2 linked regions of the Homo sapiens genome follow. The protein of the gene in region 2 interacts with the protein of the main gene of each other region in a biochemical or structural test. Each region holds a gene or a part of one and is shown on either strand. Other genes may lie near its edges. The genes, in order: HOMER1 and AGAP2.

Region 1 (3,328 bases), on a different chromosome or scaffold from region 2:
TCAGAGACTTGACAAGAAGTCGACTAGGAGTTTGTGGCCTTCTGTCTATTCTAGTCCTGATGCAATTTCTCCCTAGTTCAAGTTTTTGGTAAAAATCACTTAAAATTTTTTTTTTTTTCTATTTAGTGTACTAAGCAGAAACCACCAGGCAGTGTAGTGCTGACTGAGTTTTTGAGTTTTCTGGGATATGATTTTTAGCTATTTTACTATGTAATATATAAACAAAAAATGCTAAGTACCCACTACTTTAATTCAGTAACTTTGCTTGTATTTGCGTGACATCTATATATCAGTTTCTCATGAAGAAAAACTATCATAAAAATTTTAAGGTAAAATTTAACACGAATATTAGGAAAAAACACACTTTCGCAATTTGGAGTAAGGTGAATGACACATCCTTTCCTTTTCTAGTAATTTCTAAATTTAGAAATTGAGAAATTTTCTAACAGTGTCAATCTCAACTACTTCTTACCTGAAAGGTTTCTTAAGATTTTGTATAAATTAATTTACTTCATGCTATACATTTAGGAGGCAAAAATTCAATGAAAATCATTTCATGACTTCAAGCACAGAATTTCAGGATGTCAAAATCATTTGATATCAAATAAATGCAATGGTTAAAACAACAATAAGAATCCACTGCCATCAAACAAACTTTCCCCGACCTGCCTCCCATTCCAGTACTGACAAAATCAGGACCACAAGGAGATAAATGACCGAAGTGTATATGCTTCAGTTAAATAAAAACATGGGAGACTGTAGCCCACATGTTAAAGAATACATTTAATTTTAACAGGGCAAATAAACTAGTTTTTAAAGGTAGTGGTGGTGTTGGCTTAATTTTGAGTGTTCCTTTTATTTCCACCTGAAAAAAAAAGTGAGCTTTTCCTCTAACTGCTTCCCAACAGTTCAATGACAGCAGAACATCAAATCTATGATGGTGCTGGAGATCTTCTATAGAGACAAGGAGAGATGCAACTTCGTGAGCATGTTTTAGTCTGCAGAAAGAAAGTGGAAAAGAGAAAGAGAGAGAGAGGAGAACAAAAACTAATTTTCCAGGCAGGGGAATACTTATAAAACCTTTTATGTCAAAGTTAGGATTTCACAACATAACACACTAATGCAAAATCCAGTAGCACCTGAAAGATTTAAGTAAATGCTGTCATCATTTAAATGCTTTTAAATATCTGTAAAAGACTGGAGGAAAAAAAGATAAAGTACATTCTCCAGAGAACAAATGTATTTCAAAATAAAAACTGTATTTTTGCTTTTCTTTTTTTTTTTCAATTTTTGTTTTTGTACAAGATTCAATAGTTATCACATATTAACTTATACACAATGGGATCAACCTCCTCCTCCATGTCGCTTCAAGTCCACATGTTCAGGCTATAGTCCCCAACATTATTTTCTGAGAAATATATTACCACAGTTTGATTTAAATATAGATACAGTATATAATACTTGTCTCTGGGAAAAATCAAATTTTAATATGCAAATGTTTATATAATACAGAAATGGAAAAAACTACAGTAGGCACACAACCTAATTATGACTTGTGGATGATGATTTCTACATACTCTCCTACTGTAAATGAATAGTTAAAAGTCTTAAGAAGATTTTATTTATATGTGCACTTGTGTCCACCTTATCCCATATACTGTACATGTCTATTGACAATCTGGGAATTTAAAGGTGCAGCCCTCAAGAGATTGTTAAATCACTAAAAAAGGAAACAATTAGGCTCTATTGGACAAGAAAAACACTCACAAAATTTCCAATTTTAAATTTCATTATCAGTAGGAAAGTATTAAAAATAATTTTCTGTATATACATATGGGTATATGTATATATTGAATCACACATATGTCCCACATTATCAATACAATTCAAATGGAGACATTTTGGTGAGTTTTTTCATTAAATGATCACTATGTCAAAATTTAAAAATATTTTATTACATCATTAAAATAATTCACTTGCCATTTCAACAGCTTACACTGTTTTTTAAATTTTTTTAACTCTTCATACTAAACTCCCTGATCCCTAGTGTTAAATCTCCTATTTAAATTAAAACTTGGTGCTCTTTGTTACTCAGAAACTGATGGATAAAAACACATTTACTTCAAAATTCCATCAATCAAATACATTTTGTTACCTGATTTATCAGAGAAATATCTCAGCTCTGAGCATGTGTATCTAAATTATTCTCCCTATAATATATAGGTGAGGAAAATATCCTAAAATAGATGGAGGTAACGTACATGATGTTACAGCACATATAATACATGATTGTTATAAATTTTTCAGAGACACCTGAAAACTCACTTAAGAAACTAACTTCAGAAACAAACCATTTATTTTTCACTCTAATGTAAATTAATATGTATGTATTTACGTACATACACATACATAAAAAACAAAATTGTCTAGTATTGAGTAGCTGTTTATGAGTGAAAAAATGGTTACAAATTGGTTAATTAGCTTAATTTTGTACTTAACAATTCGATCATTTTGGGGTACAAACAAGAAGTCAGTGCATTTATAGACTCCATAGAGTCAGTTACTCAAGCATACACTTTAAAAAAGAACCCTCCTCAACATCACAGGCATTGTACAGCAAGAATATATGTACTCTGATGCAATTCCTACTTTATAAGCAGACTAGACAGCACTTGGCTTACTTTTAAAATAGCTTCGTAAAAGAAATATATCATATAAAGAAATGCATGTTTGCTAAAAGTCTTTTAAAATTACATCAAAACAACATTAAAACCTGTTCACTGAGAAGAGCCTATTGAATTTAATTCCTGTTTTGAAATACCTAGTTAACAATTCAGAATATTGCCTTGTGAGGTTTGAATCAAGATGTGATTGATGTGTAGAGCCAGATAGAGTACATGACTCCATCTCTATCTGCCACGATCACAATTTAGATAGAGTCCTCTGATCAGCTGTTTGATGTAAATGGACCCCCTTTAAAATAGCTATACACCTTAAAATTATCTATAATAAACAGTTCCCCAATAACCATTATTATTCGTAAATTGAAATGCATTGATCATTCAGAAAAGATTTCTTGCAAAATATATAAATAAATGTAACTGCATATTCTGTAAATATACTTAACATTGCTAGACCAGCCTGTCAATGACGGGCTGCTGTATTTCAGTACTGTGTGTCAAATTTATTAGAAACTTAAAAAGAAAAATTTCTGAGGGACTCAGCTGCCTTCGTTAGTTGGCTTTAAAATGTGTAATAAAATGGGAGACAATATCTTCTCATAAATACATGGAATCAATATGGAAAAGTAAACTATACAACAGACAAG
Region 2 (3,828 bases):
GAACTAAAGTCAGTGGCCCCGGAGCAGAGTGGAACAGAAGCCAAGAGCCATGAGAGTAGGCAGATCTGGAACCTGGGTCTGAGCACCCGGCAGAGAGCAGGGGCAGCAGGGATGGGTTATCAAGACCAGCGAGGAGCTGGACCTCTGGGAGAAGAAGGGAGGGTCAGGATCTGAGTGAACACGGGGGAAGGGGACAGAAGCTGGGGCGCAGGGCTGAGATGAGAGGGCCCTGGGGCTGGTGGCGGTGGGGGTGCGGGGAATCACTGAGGGACAAGAATGGGGATCACTATGGTCAAGGGCTGTTGGGGAGCACTTGGCAATAGAAAGTTATCGGGAGAAGGCCGGGCACGGTGACTCATGCCTGTAATCCCCACCGCCTGTAATCCCAGCACTTTGGGAGGCCGAGGCGGGCAGATCACGAGGTCAGGAGATCAAGACCATCCTGGCTAACACAGTGAAACCCAGTCTCTACTAAAAAATACAAAAAATTAGCCGGGCATGGTGGCAAGTGCCTGTAGTCCCAGCTACTTGGAAGGCTGAGGCAGGAGAATGGTGTGAACCCGGGAGGCAGAGCTTGCAGTGAGCCGAGATCGCACCACTGTACTCCAGCCTGGGTGACAGAGTGAGACTCCATCTCAAAAAAAAAAAAAAAAAAGAAAAGAAAAAAAAAAGAAAGAAAGTTATTGGGAGAAGGGGCTGGGTGGTCACAGAATCCAGGATCTGGGGAATCAGTGGGAGATGCTGAGATAAGGGGCTGAATCACTGGGGATCAGCGGGGCTGCCGGGTGCAGGGGCTGGGGTGGTAAGTGGAGTTGAGGGAAGGAAGAGGAACTAGAACGTCATTAGGAGAGGGAGCAGGAGCTATAGACATGGACATCGTTGAGAACAGGGGCTGGGGAAAGGAATTAGCTGGGGAACAAGGAAAGAAGGACAGGGGCTGGGGGATGTCCATCCACTCTTTCACTAAGTTGTGTGCAGTGGTAATGGTAGTCAAGCACTCAGCTCAGGCACTTTTCCTCCTGCTGCAGGAGTTAGGCCAGGGAGCTGATGTTGGGGATGAGGGTTCTGGGTGGGAGTGGAAGTGCCTGCCAGAGCCTCACCTTCAGCCTGCCCAGCCGAGCCTTCAGTCTTGGATGGTGTTGTCAATTTTTTCCTCCTCTGCTTCTTCACCATGGGAGAAGGAGGGGGTTCCCGACTCAGGGGGCTCAGGTCTCCAGATGGGGTACAGTCTTAGGGAGGAAGACACAGCTGCCTCAGTAGCCCCCTCCACAGATTTCCTGATTTCTTGATAGCCTGTCTCATTCCCTGAACTAGCTTTGGCATTTTAGGGCTCCCCTCCTCAACTGTCCCTCTCCAGGAGTTCCCCCTTGATCATTCCTGGGGATGCAGGGAGATGAGAGGTTTAGAGTCAGTCCTGCACTCAGATCCTGGTTCTGCCACTTACTGGCCTTAAGACCTTGAGCAAGGCACTTAATCTTCTGAGCCTCAGTTTCTTTATCTCTGAAATAGGGGTAATAATCTTGACCTGACAAAACTGTTGTAAGGATCATTTGTTTACAATGTTATTTGCATACTATATATATATATTTTTTTTCAAACATGTCAAACATGGCTGACTATGTACTAGACAATATTCTCAGTTTGTTTAAACCTCAAAGCAACCCTCTGAGGTAGAAACTATTATCTCCATGTTACAGATGAGGAAACTGAGGCACGGAGAGGTCAAGTAACTTGCCCATGTGGCAAGCCAGGATTCAAGCTCAGGCAGTTGACGTTAGAGTCCACTTGTCTTAACCATTATGATAGACATGGTATGATTGAACTTATTCATGTGTGGGGCTCCATGTGTTCACTCATGCATTTATTCCAGCCTCCAAGCCTTCACCCCATATTCATTTCCCACACTCATCCTATTTGGGTGTGGAAGACAGCAGATGGAAGGTCATCCCCACTGACCCGTGCTGAGGGCTCGGGCCAAATTCCGGTCTGGCTTCAGCAGGTGTTTGGATGTCTGATCTGGTGGTGGCTGCAGGGAACTGGGGCTGGGGCTAGGGCTTGGCATGGGAGTAGTGGCTTCTGTCGGAAGAAGATGAAACCTCAGTGAGCCTCTTTCTTCTGGCCCCATTCCTTATGTGGTCCCTCTTTATCACCCAGCTTCCTACTCGCCCAGTGCCAGCCCCCTCTTCCCTCTTACCCCTCTTTTTCCCCAGCCCTGGCCCCTCTTCTGCTCCTATGTCATAAACCTTACTCACCCAGGCCTTCACCCATCTGGACAGTGCTCATGTCCTTGACGAGCCCGTTAATGCTGGCTGAGGGGCCAAAGGCAGAGATGGCCCTCGGGGGCCGCTTGCCCGGGACTTTGACTGTTGTTCGCAGCAAGTCCATCTCCTTGCCGTGGGTACTGTGGATGTAATCCTGGAGGGGTACAGGGCCGAGAGTGTAGGGAAGGTTGGGGTCCTTGGTATGCTGGGAAGCAGTCAACATGGTACAGAATAGAGAGGGACTGGGGAGGGGTCTTGGGGGCCAAATGGGTTGTGATGAACATCTAGGGGATGGGCCCATCAGACTTGGCCCAGCAATTGTCTCCTCCAGAAAGCGTTCCCTTCCTGGGTGCTCTCCCACTAGACTGCAAGTTCCTGGGGCAATGTATTTACCTTTACATTCCTGGCATGGGCACATGGTGGGCTCTTAACACATGCCTGCTAAACTTAAGAGAAGAGGACTAGCACTTCCTAGAAATGAGGTTAGTGCTTTGTCAGAGGCATAGACAGGTAGAACTTGAGGGAAATCCAAAGCTGGCCAATGTGGCCCAGTCTCTGCCACTCACGTTAATACTGGGGTGGTAGAGTAGAAAGCCATTACTGGACAGGGTTACATATTTCTTCTTCCATTCTTTGTTCAAGGAATTGCCACTTCGTTTTAGTAGGAAGCTCTGGAGAAAGGGGAAAGACACATGTGGGAAAAAAGCCAACTAAGACCAGCTGCCCCTAGCCTGTCCCAGCCCCTGGATCACTCACCTGTTTGATGGGGATGGCTCGCCCACTCCCTGTTGTCTCTCCCCGACTATCCAAGCTTCGTTTCTCGGAGTCACTACCCCGACGATTCTGGAATGGTTATTGGAATCAGTTTGAGGATGGATAGAGGGATACACTGATGTGACGATAGGGAAGATAGATGAAGAAGGGCCCAACAGAGGAGTCTAGGGACTAGGGAAGATGGGCAGGTCATGGGGGACAGGAGGATGGGGGTCAGCATGTCCATGTCCAATACCGCAAAAAGGCTGGTCCTGCGCTTGGCTGCCCGGTGCAGGGACCCTGGGGTGCTCAATCCAGCCACTGCAGCTGCCTCGGCTCGGAGCTCCCGGTGACCAACATTCGGTGAGGACGGGAGGGAAGAAGAGTAGTCGCTAGTGTGGCCCCCGTTACTAGCCTGGGCACATATGGAAGAGTCAGCAGAGCTGAGATGCCCCCTACTCCACCAAGCTACACTCATATCTCGTTATGGGGAATTTGAGACATTCCTTGATCACCTCACCATTTATTTATGTTGTCATTAATAATTTTTAAAATCCTCACTAACATTGTGACAATGCTTTAAATGTTGTAAAGGTTGATTCACAAGTATTGTGTCATACAATCTTCCTGATAGCCTTGGGAGGTTAGGTGAGTTGCTTAAGGACACTGCAAATGATGTCTCAAATCTGGTTGATTTCCAGTCCAATGCACTTTCTGCCAATAGTTTCACTGCCATTTCCATCTGTTTCCCCACTCCCTGAACCTCCTTGGGTACTCTGTACCTGTCCTAGGATCCCCAGCCCCTCTGCATCTT

Evidence for each region.
Region 1: the proteins of AGAP2 (region 2) and HOMER1 form a complex in vitro, tested with the Homo sapiens proteins (one study listed by BioGRID).

What each region holds. Positions count from the first base shown.
Region 1 is NC_000005.10:79,372,030-79,375,357, forward strand, and holds the end of HOMER1 (homer protein homolog 1), read right to left. Parts: 3' UTR 607-3,328; downstream 1-606. UniProt on the Homo sapiens protein: Postsynaptic density scaffolding protein. Binds and cross-links cytoplasmic regions of GRM1, GRM5, ITPR1, DNM3, RYR1, RYR2, SHANK1 and SHANK3.
Region 2 is NC_000012.12:57,728,539-57,732,366, forward strand, and holds part of AGAP2 (arf-GAP with GTPase, ANK repeat and PH domain-containing protein 2), read right to left. Parts: intron 3,430-3,828; coding exon 3,271-3,429; intron 3,105-3,270; coding exon 3,018-3,104; intron 2,933-3,017; coding exon 2,828-2,932; intron 2,416-2,827; coding exon 2,253-2,415; intron 2,077-2,252; coding exon 1,957-2,076; intron 1,230-1,956; coding exon 1,101-1,229; intron 1-1,100. UniProt on the Homo sapiens protein: GTPase-activating protein (GAP) for ARF1 and ARF5, which also shows strong GTPase activity. Isoform 1 participates in the prevention of neuronal apoptosis by enhancing PI3 kinase activity.